Linked DNA regions of Homo sapiens: all the other regions are reported to be linked to region 1. The links are microRNA targets in miRTarBase. Many come from high-throughput screens and were not tested one by one. Region 1 holds a microRNA gene; each other region holds the end of a gene's coding sequence.

The links. The annotated mature microRNA hsa-miR-6853-3p reads UGUUCAUUGGAACCCUGCGCAG and lies in region 1 at 2,093-2,114, shown strand. An mRNA with a match to its seed (bases 2 to 7 or 8) in the 3' UTR can be bound and repressed. Matches are read on the target gene's strand: a 7mer-m8 pairs with bases 2 to 8, a 7mer-A1 pairs with bases 2 to 7 and ends in A, and an 8mer does both.
Region 2: the mRNA of CCDC71L is a reported target of hsa-miR-6853-3p. Seed matches in the 3' UTR shown: 8mer at 3,446-3,453.
Region 3: the mRNA of SAMD14 is a reported target of hsa-miR-6853-3p. Seed matches in the 3' UTR shown: 7mer-A1 at 3,145-3,151.
Region 4: the mRNA of RAB11FIP4 is a reported target of hsa-miR-6853-3p. Seed matches in the 3' UTR shown: 7mer-m8 at 527-533 and 7mer-A1 at 285-291.

Annotation. Positions count from the first base shown.
Region 1 is chr9:35,730,882-35,735,295 of GRCh38, forward strand. It overlaps MIR6853 (microRNA 6853), which reads left to right and starts at 2,041; the gene lies at 2,041-2,114. TLN1 (talin 1) reads right to left here and starts at 1,314. Exons shown (of 57, transcript NM_006289.4): 1 at 1,194-1,314. CREB3 (cAMP responsive element binding protein 3) reads left to right here and starts at 1,785. Exons shown (of 9, transcript NM_006368.5): 1 at 1,785-2,020; 2 at 2,115-2,262; 3 at 2,334-2,401; 4 at 2,515-2,604; 5 at 4,228-4,334. The coding sequence starts at 1,892. RefSeq lists enhancers at 871-920, 1,721-1,770, 1,821-1,910 and silencers at 1,101-1,390, 1,431-1,590.
Region 2 is chr7:106,656,674-106,661,087 of GRCh38, forward strand. CCDC71L (coiled-coil domain containing 71 like) reads right to left here. Exons shown (of 1, transcript NM_175884.6): 1 at 1-4,414. The coding sequence starts at 4,223. The coding sequence ends at 3,516. Among named protein-coding and RNA genes, the nearest start is that of CCDC71L, 2.3 kb to the right of the region's middle. RefSeq lists an enhancer at 3,259-3,308 and a silencer at 3,659-3,928.
Region 3 is chr17:50,109,100-50,113,099 of GRCh38, forward strand. SAMD14 (sterile alpha motif domain containing 14) reads right to left here. Exons shown (of 10, transcript NM_001257359.2): 10 at 941-3,949. The coding sequence ends at 3,794. PDK2 (pyruvate dehydrogenase kinase 2) reads left to right here. Exons shown (of 11, transcript NM_002611.5): 10 at 188-301; 11 at 858-3,053. The coding sequence ends at 998. Among named protein-coding and RNA genes, the nearest start is that of PDK2-AS1, 8.7 kb to the left of the region's middle. RefSeq lists enhancers at 2,698-3,383, 3,384-4,000.
Region 4 is chr17:31,531,008-31,535,421 of GRCh38, reverse strand. It overlaps RAB11FIP4 (RAB11 family interacting protein 4), which reads right to left. Exons shown (of 15, transcript NM_032932.6): 15 at 1-3,806. The coding sequence ends at 3,690. It overlaps MIR4724 (microRNA 4724), which reads right to left and starts at 539; the gene lies at 451-539.

The sequences.
Region 1 (4,414 bases):
TTAGCTTCCCCCATAGTCATCAGCTCCTTCTTCCCTAGGCAGTCCCCAACTTGTGACTAGGCCTTGTACATCCTGGGTCCCTATTTCCCACCTATGTTGTCTGTAAACAACACAGTCCAGAATCTCTGTCCCCTAACTGTGGTGGCCACAGCAAGGGCCTTGGGCTTAGAGAATGGAATAAAGAAGCTGGAATCCCAGATGCCTGCAATTCTAGCTAAAGCCAGAACGCTAGCCTGAAATTAGTTTATCTCTCTGGGTAAAAAGAAGCCCCTGTAACTACATAGGAATAAAGGATTTCCCTACAAAAGAAGGGCATTTACCTACTGCCAACCTCTTAAATTTTATCTGCTCAAGGTCAACTATGCTAGCCTCAAACCACAACCCCTAAAGCTGCCCCAAATTCCTAACATTAACCCCACCTCTAATTTGTTTCCTGATTCCCAGTACCGGCTTGGACATTCATCCCTTTCCTAGCACAGACTCATATCCAATCCCTGATCCCTGAAACTGATCTAAGTTTTGCCTTTAGCACCAAATCCCCTGATGTTAACCCTAAATGTTGACCCCTAAGCCTAAAGTTCATTTATAATTTGATTCCTAACTCACGCTTTCACTGTTTATCCTTAACACCGACCATGCCAACATTCTTTAATCCCTCAAACAAGCTCTAACCTGATTCCTGTTGTTTGTTGACCCTTAACCTGACCCTGAACTCAAATTATGACGTATGATGGCCATCCCAGCAAACAAGATAATGACCGTAATCTAAACCTTACCTATCTAAAACGGACCTGACTCACACTAACTCTTAAGTTTTAACCCCAGCTTTTAACTCCTATAGCGACCCTTGATTCCTAAACGGACCCCACCTAATCCCCAACTCACCCAAAGCTTTCCTACCCACATGCCCGCTATCAGCTAACACCAAAGCCCGTCCCCGCCCTGCGCCCCGCTGCCACCCGACTCCTCACGCTCCCCAAAGCCTATCCCAGACATAGGACTGCTCCCAGGAAAGGCCTGTCTTCCCCAAGACGGCCTACTTCACGCCGAGCTCAAGCCGAGATGCGCTGGACGCTGACCTCTCCAACTAATAGGACCCGAACCGGACACGCAAGAGAGGCAGGGCCCGCCCGCCCCGGGGCCAGGCCCCGCGGCCCCACCCTAAGGCCCCCGCCCGGCCCGGTCTGGCCTACCTGCGCTGCCTGGCTCTGCGCCCCGCCCGCCGGCCCGCCGCCCCGCCGCTTCTCGGGTCGCCCTCGGGCTCCGGCCTCGCCCTCCCTTCGACACTCTCTCGGCCACTTCCGTCCTGGGAACGTCCCCCACCCGCGGGCGGCGCCCTGGGCCCGCGCTCTATGGTCGCGGGGGGCAGGCAGGAAGCTGCTCTGGCCCCGTTCTCGATGCTCGGGAGCCGCCAAAGCCCGGCAGCCCCTCCCTGGCAGGAAGCGAGGGTGCGGCGCAATCCGGAGAGGACGCCAGGACGACGCCCGAGTTCCCTTTCAGGCTAGAACTCTTCCTTTTTCTAGCTTGGGGTAGAAGGCGGAGCCGGAGCCCCGGAACCCCCGCCCTCGGGGTGCGAGGCGGCAGCAGGGCCGTCCCCTACATTTGCATAGCCCCTGGGACGTGGCGCTGCACCCAAGCCTCTTCTCAGTTGGAGGGAACTCCAAGTCCCACAGTGCCACGGGGTGGGGTGCGTCACTTTCGCTGCGTTGGAGGCTGAGGAGAATTGAGCCTGGGAGGCGGGTCCGGAGAGGGCTATGGAAAGCCGCCGGCGGGGAATCCCGGCCGTAGAGGGACAGTGGATAGGTGCCCGAGGCCTACAGCTGGCCTGGGGCTCGTGTCTGGGCTTCGGACGTTGGGGCCCGGTGGCCCACCCTTTCCGTAGTTGTCCCAAATGGAGCTGGAATTGGATGCTGGTGACCAAGACCTGCTGGCCTTCCTGCTAGAGGAAAGTGGAGATTTGGGGACGGCACCCGATGAGGCCGTGAGGGCCCCACTGGACTGGGCGCTGCCGCTTTCTGAGGTAGGTTGGGGTTCTGACTGGGGAAAGCGTGGGATGTCCATGAAGTCAGGTGATGGTGATAAGGTCAAGGCCTGTTCATTGGAACCCTGCGCAGGTACCGAGCGACTGGGAAGTAGATGATTTGCTGTGCTCCCTGCTGAGTCCCCCAGCGTCGTTGAACATTCTCAGCTCCTCCAACCCCTGCCTTGTCCACCATGACCACACCTACTCCCTCCCACGGGAAACTGTCTCTATGGATCTAGGTGAGTCTGAAATAAGTTTGCGGGGAGGACAGGGTTCATGGGCCTGGCTATTCATACTTTCCCTTTTGCAGAGAGTGAGAGCTGTAGAAAAGAGGGGACCCAGATGACTCCACAGCATATGGAGGAGCTGGCAGAGCAGGTACTTGACTTGATTTTCAGGAGATTACTCTCACATTCCCCAGGTGGGGGCAGGATTCCCCATTCCTCTCTGACATCCCCATGCAACTGCCGTCCACTTTCTTGTTACCCTAGGAGATTGCTAGGCTAGTACTGACAGATGAGGAGAAGAGTCTATTGGAGAAGGAGGGGCTTATTCTGCCTGAGACACTTCCTCTCACTAAGGTAAGACTCTCATTGGTTGAACAAAGGCTGAAAAGGGATTAAAAGTCCCAAGTAGGCAAATTCTGTTAACTTTATATCAATAACTTTAAAAAAGGATTGAGGTGAGAAACTTAGTAGATTTATTGCTAATAGGAAGTTGAGGCAGGTACACAATATGCCAGATGCAAGGGCAGATCCTCGTTTTTGTTGGGCTTATACAAATTTTGGTGTTCTGTTAAAAAAATAACTCAAAATTATCAGTGCAACATTAGTATTGGGCCTTGGAAAGGACTGTGTAAGTGAAGGGCCTTGACACTTCGTTGGCTTCATAGTAATCCACCTCTTGCTGAATGGTAGAACTGTTTAGAGAGTTCAACAGGGTTGGACTAAGCAGTACATGAATAAATGTAAAATCCTTAGTTTTCAGTTTTAAGCAATGAGTGGCAACTTCACAAGCAGAGTACTGGGGTACTATGATGAAATCAGTGCTCATTAATAGAAAGGTTACAGGAATATATATATATTTTTTGACAAGGTCTTGCTCTGTTGCCCAGGCTGGAGTGCACTGATGTGATCATGGCTCACTGCAGCCTTGACTTTCTGGGCTTAGGTGATTCTCCCACCTCAGCCTCCCGAGTAGCTGAGACTACAGGTGCACACTACCCTGCCCGGCAATTTTTTTTTTGGTATTTTTAGTAGAAATGGGGTTTTGCCTTGTTGCCAGGCTGGTCTCGAACTCCTGGGCTCAAGTGATCTACCCACCTTGGCCTCCCAAAGTGAAGAATTTTAATTTCTTCAAAGTACAAGATGAGTCAGCAGTGTGATGTGGCTACTAAGAAAGTTCATGGGATTTGGAAACTGTAGCAATAGAGTTATTGTCTCTACAAGTCACTCTCTTGCTTTCCTTGATACTGGCTAGAGCACATCTTTGACAGATACTAAGAGGATGCAGTCTATCCTGAGAAGATGAGTTAAAAATTTTGTCTTTTTTTTTTTCTTTAAGCTCTGAGGAAATGTTAAGTGCCTTAAAATAGCTAAACAGGGTTTATTCTATTTGGCCCCAGAGATACTAGGTAAGTCCAACGGATAGAAATTATAAGGAGGCAGCTGTTGGTTCAGGATAAGGAAGTTTTTATTTGCTTGTTTGAAGACAGGTTCTTGCTTTATTGCCCAGGTTGGAGAATAGTGGCGAGATCATGGCTCACTACAGCTTCAACCTCTCAGGCTCAAGTGATCCTCCTTCCTCAGTCTCCTGAGTAGCAGGGACCACAGGCATGTGCCACCACACCCGGCTAATTTTTTATTTTTAGTAGAGACAAGGTCTCACTATGTTGCTCAGGCTGGTCTCAAACTCCTGGGCTCAACCGGTCCTCCTGTCTTAGCTCCCCAAAGTGTTGGGATTACAGGCATGAGCCACGTCGCCTGAATACTGCCCGACCAGTTTTTTTTTTAATAGTTTAAAATGGTCTGGCTTGTTAGGGTTAACACCTGGTCCGTGGAGGCATTCAGAAAGAATCTGAATGCCTGTTGGTCAGGGAAGCTGTAGAAGGGATTTCTGTATTGGAAAGAGATTGATCTCAGTTGCGTTTCAACTCCTTTTTCTAGAGTTCCTCTAATGATATCCCTTTCCCTGTTTCCTTTCAGACAGAGGAACAAATTCTGAAACGTGTGCGGAGGAAGATTCGAAATAAAAGATCTGCTCAAGAGAGCCGCAGGAAAAAGAAGGTGTATGTTGGGGGTTTAGAGAGCAGGTATGAAAGGGAGAGGGACTCTGTTGTAAGTATTAGGTTTTTGAAGGGAGGATACAGGCCATATCCCCGTATCTTTGTTA
Region 2 (4,414 bases), not on the chromosome of region 1:
TATCAAATTGTAAATTAAGATGTTTTCTGAGTCACATACAAATACAAAATACCATTTCAAAAATGTTCAAATCATTAGAAAAACTAGACACTATGTATTCTCTAAAATTTATTTACAGTTAATAAGTTAAAAAGCAAAGTACAAGCAGATTATAAATCTCAACCATAAGCACATCAAACTGTCCAGGGAAACACTTTGATTCCATTACAAACAATTGTTTTCTAATGCGCTTAAGACATAACACTCTATCAAAAAATATTTTAAACACACCAATAAATATTAGGCATGTATGTCCATTAAAAACCATTAAAGAGTCCTGTGGCAATCCTTAAAACAATGAAAAACTTTTGAGTTCAAAATTGCTCAGATATTTTGTATTCAAATATTTTTAAAATTTACTTAAGAGTTTTCTAAAAAATAGTACTATCATTTGCACACAGCAGATCAATAGGTGTCAGTCACCAGCTTAAGTTACACTTGTCAATATTCAAACTTGAATAAAATAAACACACATCACAACAGCGACACTTTGCACTATCAACAATGAAGCTTGCCCTCAACAATTATGACGTTACTGGTTTTAGTAACATAAAAATACATTGCTGGTTGACAGGAAGGATAAAAATGACATCAAGAATCTCAAAAAGTTATGTGAGGTGCCGGTCACCACATTTAGGCACTCAGGAATTAAAAATCAAATAAAAGCATAGCGAGGTGATGAATTTCCTCCTGGCTTCCCCCTCTACTTGTGCCATATGAGATAAAAGAGAAGGCAAGAGAATGAACGAAGATCATGAGATTTCTTTCAAAAACTATACACAAGCTAAGCTACAGACTTCACTTCAGAGGAGTAAGTGGATGCCTCATTATAAAGGCCACTATGCCAAGTTTCTTTTCACATTCTGTGACAAAGTACCCATGAAATACTTTCACTTTCCTATTAGTATACCAGTCAACTATATTAGATGTTGCTTCACATTTTAAAAGTTGTCACATAGGTTTTTACCAAAGGGCAAAAATAAAGATTTTTTACATCTTATTTCACAGACTAGAAATGGCATAATTTTTGAATAGTCCAGATGAATACCATATTGAATTCAAGATGGACAATCAGATCCAAAATGGAATCAGATAGCCCATGTAATCCAAAGAAGCATTTATGTGAGTTCAAGTATGCTAAAGTAACAAGGCATAGGAGAGAAAAATGTCAAGAATCTCAGTTAAAATAAATGAATGGTGTCAGTGGTTATGTTTCAGTGGTGTGCTGAGCAGTTATCCTCCCAGTTAAGCCAAATTTCAAAATCCTCTGGAAAACTATCTAGATAAGCTGTATGTCGAAATTGCATTCTAATATGGCCATTGGGTTTATTTTTCATTATTATAAAACTATATACAATAGTAAAGTTGTACAAATACATTTTTTCCAGGTGCTAGTTAGCTATAAAAGTTAACAATATATTTTTGGGAAGAAAACCCTATGCATCTGAAATACAATTGGCAATGGAAGCTAATAACCAAAAGATATGTCTAAGCTTCCTATCACAAATATAATTTAACACTCTCCATCTTCTAAGGAATTATTCATTTTTATTTACTCATGTGACAGTGTTTGTACAATGCATTATCATTGAGTAGTGAATAAAAGACTGAGGCTTACTAGAAAACTGGCATCAAGTTATATATATGTGTGTATATATATATCATATTATTTCTTTTAACAAGAACACTGAAATTGAAGTCACAACACTCCTATACGGACTACTAAACTTGAAATACTCATTTCAGAAAGCTATGCCATTTGAATTCTAGGAACGCAAGAGTCAAAATTGTAACTCTCATTATTCTCCTAAAAAGCTGCCAAGCAGAGATAAGCTTTAGTATTAAAGATTTCACATGTCAAGTTCCAGCCCAGTATGGATCGTTTCATGGCAGAATACTTAAATTTGAAATAATAGTGGTACAAAAACACTACTTGACCCTTTAGGTATTGCAGTAAAAGCTGGCTGTGGCACTGCTGGCTAAAAACTATTAAGTTTTCCTGCCACAAATGACCAAAGGCACTTGGATAATCAAGAATTCCACACTGGGCCATATGGTATAAACACTATAAAAGCGTAAAGAAGGGTCAGTATTCTGTGTGTCTCGCCTGTTTGATTCCTGTGGTCTTCAGCTGTCAAAGACCTAGAACTGCAAACATATAATGAGTGGCAAAAAGGTTAAAAAAAATGTTGGGACAAAAAAATCAACTAAAAATCAACTAATTTTCATTATGTTTGTAAAACTGATGAATATTAGTCTAGACATTTCTTGTTATCCAACAACAAAAACAAAAAGGAAATAGATTTCGCCCAAAGTAACCTTAACCAGTTATTTGATACCAAGAAATGCCTCCACCCCTCTTGATCATTAATAGTTCTAAGAATTCTAATGGGTATTCTGTTTATCATTTTAGTGATAATGTTTACACACATCCATCTCTCCTATGCAACTCCCATTTTAAAATACATTATCCTTGTAAAATACATTACAAGGATAATGTATTTTAAAATACTTTAACGCATAATATTCCTAGATTTGTATGTTAGACCAGGACAGGGGGCCAAATCATCTCCAGTCGGATTCCAGTGACTCCTGTAACCAAAACCAGTTCTTCACAATTTATTCATTTTTTTTAATCACACACCATATGGTTTCAATGCATTTTTTTATTCAATTCAAAAGAATTTAACAAGTTAACTTTTCCTAAACAAAAGTTTTCATGTGTATTCTACCATTTTTAGGAGCTCAGTAAATATAAACATTGTTTCAATACAAAACCTTTAAAAATACCTTGAAAATGTTTAAACAGTTGTATTTTGCATGTCTTTGTTTGTAATCACTGAGCCCATACAAATCCTTGCACTACTAACAGTCACAAGCTTGAACCTCTTAAAAAATATCCTCGATCAAAGCTTTGGAATCCAGTAAAAATTAGGAAACGAGTGGGCTTCAGAATACCCTGAGCACAAACTAGTGCAACACCACATGTTCGAACTTCTGTCCACAAAGAGGGGTGACAGTGAAATAGAAAAAGGGGGAGATAAAGAACAAGTAAATTCTGGCTTTATTACACAAGCACGAAACCAAATTCCTTTGGAAAAATAATGTCTTCGGAGGACTTCCAGACCAGTGAGGTAGAGTCCAACAGTGAGAAAACGGATCTGCCCCTAAGGTCCTGGAGACGTCTCAATCGGTGGTCAGGAAGAAAGGGACCTCCCCTGCGGGTCCAGCTGTCCCCTCCCTCCGCAGGCCGGGTACGGGAGGCAGCAGAGGGCACACCTGCCCCAGCGTCCAAGACGACCGCGCCGCGGCCCGGGACAGGGACAACCATCCGGCAACTTCTTCGCGCGTAAAGTGCATTGGGGGCCGGGGTCCTGGCCGGATCTGTAAACACTCGACTGACACTTGTTCATTCCTCCGGGCGGAAGGCCTGTCCCAAGGTCGGGGCCGGCAGGAGGCGCCCTGGAGGCCGCACCTCATGCCCGGGGCACCGGGAAGCGGCGGAGCCTCACCATGGGTTCCAGGTTCACTCGCAGGACCTGGCGCGCCCTGCGCCGCGCTGCCGCCAGGCTGCGCTCGCCCCACACGTCGCTGCCGACGCGGATGGTGGGGAAGGTGGTCAGCGTCGGGGTGGCCGCCCTCCAGATCTCCTCCAAGGTGCGGCCCCCGAAGCAGGGCCCGGGGGCCACGGGCTTGGCCGGGCAGCTCTCCTCGGGGGGCGGCGGCGGTGGGGGTGGCGGCCGGGGCTTCCTCCTGCGGGCAGCGGCCGCCCGGGCTCCGCGGCGCCTCCTCCTGGCCGCTGCGCGCGGAACCGGCCGGCGCGCCTGGCCGCGGGCTGTAGGGGGCCCCGGGGGGTCGGGTACCAGGGCCCGGCAGGAGGAGTAGCCGTAGACGTCCTTGCTGCGCAGGATGTGCGGGGAGAACTGGTGCTTGAGGCTGCAGAGGAAGCTCCAGAGCTCCGCGTCCGAGCTCATGAACTCCGTGCTGCGGGGCATGAAGAGCTTGAAGGCGTCGCCCAGCGCCTTGGTGCTGTCAGCCAGCGACAGTTGCGACCGCGAGTACACCACCTTCTCCTCCCGCGCCTCCAACCCAGCCCCGTCTTCTGCCCTAAAGTCGCCGCCCCGGGCGGCCGTGGCCGGGGCGACCGGGCGCCGGCGCCGCCGCCTCTTCATACTGCGCCGCATCGAAGGCCGCTCCGGGCCACTCACGCTCGCCGGGTCCCACTACTGCCGCCGCCGTCCCAGTCCGCGTTGGCTCCGCGGCGGCGGCTGCTGCTGGCGTCTCTCGCTACTTTTCTCGCCTCCGCCGCCGCCCCTCCCCCTCCGAGGGCGGAGGACGCGGGCGAATATCCTGCTGCCCGGTACAAGATGGCGGC
Region 3 (4,000 bases), not on the chromosome of region 1:
ATGATTGCCCCATTCACCCCACACACACTTCTTACCTCAGTGTCCCCTCCCACATGTCCCCTCCCAGCTCTGGGACCCCTGCCATGTGACCCCAGCTCCACACCCTTCCCTCCCTGCATCAGTCCCTGCAGCTCCAGGAGGCCCCTGCCAGCCTCCTCATCCTCACTGCCTTCCTGCCCCGCTGCAGGCTGGCTTTGGTTATGGGCTCCCCATTTCCCGCCTCTACGCCAAGTACTTCCAGGGAGACCTGCAGCTCTTCTCCATGGAAGGCTTTGGGACCGATGCTGTCATCTATCTCAAGGTGAGGGCCCTTCCCGCAGAGCCCAGCTGGAGAAGAGCTTTGCTGATAGGACCTGGGCAGCCTTGGCCAGCTGCGAGCTTTCCTTTCCATCCCCCCAGTCCTTCCCTGGCCCCAGACTCTGAGAATCCAAGCAAAGCTACAGTTCCTCAACCTGAAGAACCCTCAACCCCCAGACACGCACTGCTTGTCAGGGAATTTAGGGGAGTCTGTGGTCTATGATTAAGACCCCTGTGCTGGGAACCCTTGACTTGTTAGACCCAGAAGGAAGGGGACACCCTAGGTCTTGCCATTCAGTTCAGAGGAGAAGACTGAGGCCCGGAGTCCGTGACTTGCTCAGGGTCACACAGCCCAGCCTCCTCCCCCTCCCTCTCCCTCCCTTAGAGGGAGCTGCTTGCTTGAATGGGCAGGAGCGGGACACAGGAGGGACCACCCTTTTGTGGTCTTTCCAGGCCCCCGTGTCTGGCAGCTGGGCTGCCGCTGAGCTGGGGTGGGGTGGTCTGCTGAGGAGTGGACAAGGCACAGGGAGGTGGGAGGGGCTGACCCTGACACTCCCCAGGCCCTGTCCACGGACTCGGTGGAGCGCCTGCCTGTCTACAACAAGTCAGCCTGGCGCCACTACCAGACCATCCAGGAGGCCGGCGACTGGTGTGTGCCCAGCACGGAGCCCAAGAACACGTCCACGTACCGCGTCAGCTAAGGGCCGCCGTGCATCTGCACCTGAGAGGACGGACTGCCGCCTCTGGGTCCCCCCACCGTGGTGCCCCTCACCATCCTCCTGGGGGAGCAGGGGGTGGGTTCTCCCTGATGACCAGGTTCTGTCTCTATGGAAGTCACTGCGGTGATAGGTCTGTGATGGTCCCTAAGTGCCAGTCCATCTCTGTGGAGACCCCTCGGTGGCCTCCCTATCTCTGTGGGCGATGCCTGAGGGTTAGGGATGTCTCCACCCTGATGGGGTGTCCCAGAGACATTTTCCCATGGCAGTCCTCCTCTCTGAGACCAGGGCTGTCACTTTTCTGCCAGGGGTACTGGGTCCCCCTCAGCACCCTCCACAGCACAGGCCTTCCAAGTGGATGTCCCGTTGCCTTATTCCCCCAGCCCACAAAGGCACCCTGGCCTTGGCCTGCTGAAGTGTTAGGAAGAGGGTGGGTGCCCTCCAGACCTGGGGACTGAGTGGGGAAAGGAGTTACACCCGTGAGTGGGGAATGAGGCTGGTCCTGCAGCCTCTCCCTCCGCTCAGGGCTTGAAGGTCGGTGGCGGAGGGGGTGGCTCTCACAGGGCCCAACTCTAAAGTGGAAGAACCTTGTTAGACCGAGAGCTTGCCATCCAGCCAAGCTGCTCGAGGCCCTGCAGTGGCCTTGGCAATGTCTGTGCCACCTCCTGAGCCCTCCCAGCATGTCCTCACATGCTCATGCCCACCCGCTCCTCCACAAGCCTAGTCCATCCTGCCTGAGCTCCAGCCCCCAGCCCCCACTGTGCCCAGACATGTGTGCTCAGGGTGGCTTTCTCCCTAGGACCTTCTGTGTATATAGTTAGTTTTATAACCCTGAATGCCCCCACCCTTCCCCTAAGCACACAGGGGTTAAAGCTGTGTGTCCCTCCCAGTGGCTGTGGCAGTGACAGTGACACCCACACCCACAGTAAAGAGGAGACTGAATGAGACTGGCCTGGCTGCATCCCTGGGGGAGGGGACCCACACGTGCGCACGTACACACGCACACTGCGGTGCCCTGTGACCACCACATGACGCACCGGGGACGTCCGGCCCAGCTCAGGACTGTGAGTAAAACACTGGGCAAAGCCATCTGTTCAGAACGCCGGATGGCCCAGCACCTGGTGACAGACCTGTTGTCCCACCATACTCAGGGCCCAGCAGAGTCCGGCCAACCCAACAACTGGAGCAGACAGAAATTCTGGTCACTGGCACATCATAAGGATTTATTGAAATAAATTGAGAACTGCCTCCCCTTCACATGCAGGTGGGCACCCACTATAGCTACTGATGGCTTTAAGGATGTGGGTGCCTTCCAACCTCCCATGGCCCTGCCACCAGGCCCAGATGGTGCCAGTGTCCTCATATCTGTTTCCCTCCGAAGCCCCTCTCCCAGCACAGATAGCAGAGGGGGGATAAGGGCTGAGTCCCAGGTACAGGGTGCTGGCCGTAAGCCACAGCCCCTGGGCAGGAATGAGGGAGCCAGCATGCATTGGTGCCATCTGCCGCTCTGTCTGGGCAGATGGGAGGAGCTGGAGGGGTTTCCAAGCGGGAGCCCCCAGGCCTCATCGGTAACTCTGACCAGTGTCCTGGAAGCGGGACTAGCTGCTGACCAGCGCCACACATGAACACTTCCTCCAAGGACATTTCCTAAAAAGGACACATGCTGTCCCCAGGCTGCTGGTAAACTCCACCCCCATCCAGGGAGCTGGCCCCAGCCCTCAGTGTGGCCCAGGGAAGCAGAGCTTGCACCGCCTGCCAGTTCTGAGCCCACTGATTCCCTGACAATGCCTGGGGCAGATGGGGGAGGGCTGATGAACCTTTCCAATCTCGTAGCTGCCGGGGACCCCCAGGTTTTGCCTCTCTGCCTGGCTGGGGTGAGGGCTGACCAGGTCAGCAGCTCCTAGGCCTTGGCTGGTGGAAGTGGTGTCCTCTGTCCCTATCAGTTCCTGTTTGCTCAGCTCCCAAAGAGGACTTAGGTGCCCTCTGAGGAAGCAGCAGGAAGTGAAGGGAGTCCTGGCTTGGAGAATGGGTCAAAGACCAGGTCTTGAATGGGCCCTGAGAGGCAGACCTGTGTGGTGTCATCTCGCCCCCTGGGACCCACAGGACAGAGGAGGGGAGAGGGAGAAGGGGATGTTCATCCTCCCCTCTTGAGTCCTGGCAAAGACTGCACTCGCCCCAGGCTGCTTTCTCTGCGCTCCTGTTGAGGAGTTTGGCTGGGAGTCTACCCTGAGTGCGACTTGCTGCAGCGCCCACTGGCCTCTTGGGGGAGCAGGACAGAGCTCTCCCACCACACAGCCCCCTGGAAGAGTGGAGAGGAGCCGCTCCCACATGGGCTCCTGCTGAAATGCCCAGCCCAGCTCTGAGCCCTGGGGCCCGGCCTCAGGGCCTCTGGCAGGCAAGCAGGCAGGCAGGCCTCCTAGCTCCCCTCCACCCCAGCCCCACGATGGCCTGAGGGCAATGGGACAGCCTGACCCAGCCTCCCAGACTTGCCTCAGCCCTGGCCTCTCTGCCCTCTCCCCTTCATCTGCTCCTCCCCCAGGAACTCTGTGCCAAACAAGTCCTCAAAATAGGATTTATTACTAGGCCCTCTCCCTGGGGTCTCCCTTTCTGGGGTCTCTGGGTCTAGACCAAGTGACAGGGTAAGAGAGAGCATGTCCCCCCTGAGAGCGTGGGACCAGGCTAGCCCAAGTGCAGCGCCCAGGTCCAGCCTCCCTGGTGAGGCCTGTGCCCGCGGAGCCAGTGGCTGCCCCTGCCGGGTGCCAGCGCCTGTGCACCCTCCCCTAGCTCTTCTTGGCCTCCTGCTCTCGGCGCCGGAGCTTCTCCCGCTGCCGCGCAGCCTTCTCCTGGGCCTTGCGCTCCTTCTCGGCAGCTGCTGCCATCTCCTTCAACTTGCGCTTCACCAGTGCCCGGTCATGAGAGTTGCTGAGCCCCAGGCTCTGGGGAGGAGTCCGGGGTGAGGGAGAGAGTCCCAGAACCTTCCCAGTCCT
Region 4 (4,414 bases), not on the chromosome of region 1:
GGACCACACCCCACACCAATTCAATCCGAACCTCTGGGGGTTCAGCCCAGACAGCAGAAGCTTACAAATCTCCCCAGGTGATTCCAATGCACAGCCAAAGCTGAGCCCACTGTTTTAGGCCCTCGTGCAGGTTCTTGAGCTTTTTTTTTTTTTTTTTTAACTTTTGGTAGAGACAAGGTATCACTATGTTGCCCAGGCTGGTTTAGGACTCCTGAGCTCAAGTGATCCGCCTGCCACTGCCTCCCAAGTGCTAGGATTACAGGCGTGAGCCACCATGCCTGGCCTGTTCATGTTTTAATAGGTCAGAAATAAAGTCATGAAAAGGAATTTCTCTGTGACAGTTCGCAAAGAATTCTACCAATTTAAAATAAAATAATCTAGGATAAACTCTGGCCAATTCAAAGCTAAAAGAAAAAAACATTTTTACTAGAAGTTTCTTAAAGCCTCTCAACGCACAGGGACTAGCTGAACCAGAAGGTACTTCATTTTCTAATAGATAATGTACACGAAGCTCACTCCTGGTTCAGTTCATTTTGCGTGGCTTCCAACTGAACGCAAGGGCAGCTCAGGGCCATGTAAAATCTGAGTCTACTACAGAAACCCTCGCCCCACCCCCAAAACACCTCTAAATTTCAGATAAGTTACTGCTAATCCCTACTCGGTAGGGTTGCCAGGTTTAGCAAAAACAATAAAAACAAACAAAAAACCCAAGTAGGACACGCAATTAAATTGGAATTACCTGAGCAGCTCTTTAAAAAATCCCATGCCTGGGCTACACCCACAACAATCAAACCAGAACGTCTGAGGATTCAGTCTAATCATCAGAATTTTTAAAATCTCCCCATTTCAAATATGTCCTGGCCAGGCATGGTGGCTCATGCCTGTAATCCCAGTGCTTTGGCAGGCTGAGGTGGGAGGATCACTTGAGGTCAGCAGCTCGAGTGAGGCAACACAGTGAGACCCTGTCTCTACAAAAAATAAGAAAAATTAGCTGGGCGTGGTGGTGCATGCCTGTAGTCCCAGCTACTCAGGCAGTTAAGGCGGGAGGATCGCTTGAGCCTGGGAGTTCAAGGTTGTGGTGAGCTATGATCATACCACTACACTCCAGCCTGGGCAACAGAGCAAGATCCTATCTCTAAAAATAACATCTGTCCCATGTATTAGATAGAACATATTTATTCTAAAATTATTTTCTATCTGAAATTCAAACTTAACTGGGCATCCTGTCTACTACCTCGCAGCCCCACTACTGAGGGGTAAGGGCAGAAACAAAGATCAAGCTCCTACCACCTAGGCTCTGGGACCTGCCACCAAGGGGTCTGGGATCTGCCAGGGGCTGTGGAGCTGGGACACCTGGGGCATCTGCCCCCTCAAGCTAGCTTTTGAGCCCAGAAGAATATTTTTACAAACATACACCATCTTTAAAAGCCAAGCAACAAGCCAGGTTTTACAAGAAATGTATTCTGGCTGAAGAAAGTAAGGTTGGACTTGAGGTGTGTGTGAGCTGGAATTCAGCCCCCCATTTAAAAGCCAGGCCTGCTCCAGAGGCCCCTCTGGCACTGCAGCAGGTCCCGGGGGCCTTTCAGACGCCGGCTCCCTCCGGAGCCTGTTCCCATGGCGCCCCTTAGAGGGAGGAGCCTGAAGCACGCCCCAGGCTGCCAGCTGCTTCCGCCCACCTTTCCCGTGGCAGAGATTCCTTCCCACGTTGTGACTCAGGCTGTGTAACCCAGGCCTCTGCAGCCTTCTCTGAAATTCCAATGCAGCCAAAGGGCAGATAACATTTTACAGATAAAATACTCAACCCTGGGGTAAGGCCCCCACGCACCAGTACTCCTTCTGACCTAACACCCAGGCCAAAGCTATGTCAGGATCTGTCTTGTTCCTTTCAGCCGTGGCCACTCCTTCCTATTGGCAAATTCTCAAGAGACCCTCTCCTCATGCCTTCTTCCACTGCCTCTTCGCAGAACCCTTGGGGGAGCCCAAGGAGACCCGCGTCCTAAGGGGCTGAGAAACTCCTAGAAGACCGACTGCCTAGCCTAGTCTTCCCAGTGTGGGTGGCTCCAAAGTCCTGGGTCAGACCAGTGCAACCCCATTATGTGCAGCATGAAACTAATCCCCAACAAAAGATTAAAAAGAAGCCACGAGATCCAACAAATGCAAAGGCTGATTGGAATGGAATTGAAGGTTGGTCCTGGCCACAGCCCTGCCTCTGTCAAGCAGGTGTCACACCCAAGTCCCCAGATCCCCTCTCCTCACCCTCACTGCCCTCTCTTTCTGCAACTCCCCCTCCACCGCCCTTCCCAACATGCCCAAACCTTCCTTCTCATACTATAAGATGTGCTGAAGAAAGCAAGAAACTGCAGGGGGAAGAATAAGACCACACACGTTTATATATATTTGGATTAAGAAAATGAATCACAAGCCATATAAAATTGAGATAAATTGGAAAACTCTAAGGTAAGTACCATGTCTATTCCCAGCTGCCTAGAACAAAGATCCATTAAAAATCCATGGTGTGAATTTCCACCATGGGTCAGAAGGATGGAAGACTAAGGTTTTCCTGCAACTTTCCCAACCGCCTCCCACCAGTGCAGCGAGTGCTCCCCTGGCTGAGAATCAAATACAGGTGTGTTTCTAAACGCTGGAACGAAGCAGTCTTGCTGCCACACGAGTGGAGCCCGGAGCTAGGATTCTGAAATCCAAACCCAGGCCTGCCATCACCAGGCTGCGTGGAGAATGAAGACAGGGAGCCAGGCAGACGGTTTCTCCGTGCATCCATCTTAAGATGCAGCCATGGGAAGGAAACTGACTGGGATGGGAGTTGTGTTCCTCCCCAAAACTCATTTCTTTGGTTGCCCGATGTCAACTCCTGCCTTAGACACCCATCCCAAACCCTCCTTCTCCTTCATTTTTATCCCTTCATGTTACAATGACGCAGTGAATGCTGCTTCATTGTCTTAAAACTGAAACAGAAACGGGGAGGTAGGTAGCATGGATGGGGGAGTGCACGAACTCTATAGGTACAGGATGAGGATGCCCCGCACTAGCTGCTATGAAACCTGAGTCCTCTGTTCACTCTGCACACACATCACAGAGGGCTGCTGGCCGGTGGCCAAGGCATTTGGTGAGGGCCCCATCTCATGGACCCTCCAGATGCCCCTTCATCCTCTCTGAGCTTGAACACTGGGGCTTGAAAGGTGGCCAAAGAGCTGGCGAGGACACAAATATGGGGCATTCAAACTCCTAGGAAAGATCACAATTTTGCTCCCACTCCCAAGGGGACTAGGAGTGGGGTGAAAGAGCCCATCGTACTAGAGCGAATGTGAATCCTTATCCCCAGAGGTAGAATCATTTTACCCAGTACCGGAAACACGAGCTTCCAGTTCTTGTTTTTACAGTAACTCCTGATAGCAGACCTTGCCTCCTCCCACTTCCAGTACCCTCTGCCCCTTGCAAAGGGGCCACAAAGTGCATGCACGGCTAACCGTGTGGATGCTGCCCACAGCCACGGCCACTCACCCCTCGCTCGTGTGCACAGCCTCCCCACATATACACGGGTACACGTAACGCATGGTGGCCAGAGAGACATTTACAGTGTGAGTGTGAGGCCCGGCTTAGGCCTGCATCCTTGGGCAGGGTCTGCCCTTGGTCCCAGGGTCCTAAGGCTGCTCTGCAGCCAGCCCCGTGCCTTAGTGTTTGATCTCGAGGATGGAGGGATTGTGGTCCAGGATGGCGAGGATAATCTTGTCCATGTACTGCCTCAGCCGGAAGTTGATCTCCTCCTGCTCCTTCAGGGCTTCCATTAGCTGAAGGAAATGGGAAAGACGGGTCAGTGGCTGGGCCTGGGATAGGGTGCAGGCAGAGTCCAGACTCCCAGGCTTGTCGCAGGCCAGTGCCTGACAATAGAGGGCATCAGGAGATCCTGGGCAAGGTGGGCCCCAGGACAGCCTCAGCATTTGGATGCCAGGACCAGAGTCGAAGTGGCTCAGCCCCTAGTATTACCTATGCAGGTGCCCAGGCCCCACCCCCAGAGATTCCAATGTGATCAGTTTGTAGAGGGGGCCCAGGTGTGGGTAATTTTTTGCAAAAGTAGAAAACACTAGCCAAAGTCATTTAAAATCAAGACTGACAAAGTCCCAGGGCCGCTAAGACTCCAAAGGGGAGCTGTCTCCTGCCTGGAACACCTCTCCCCACCCCCAGCCCCACACTGCTCTTCTCCAGGGCAGTGTTCTTTCGGACATTGCTGACATGCTGCCTCTGCCCAGGGGTTGGGGCCCAGCTCACCTGGGAGCTCCTTGAGGACAGAGGTCAGCTCTTCACCCCGTGTCCCAGGCAGAGGGTGAGGCTCAGTGACAGAGTGTCTTGTAATTCATGTTACAATGCAGCCGGGGCATTTTGGAGGCCTGATCTTTCA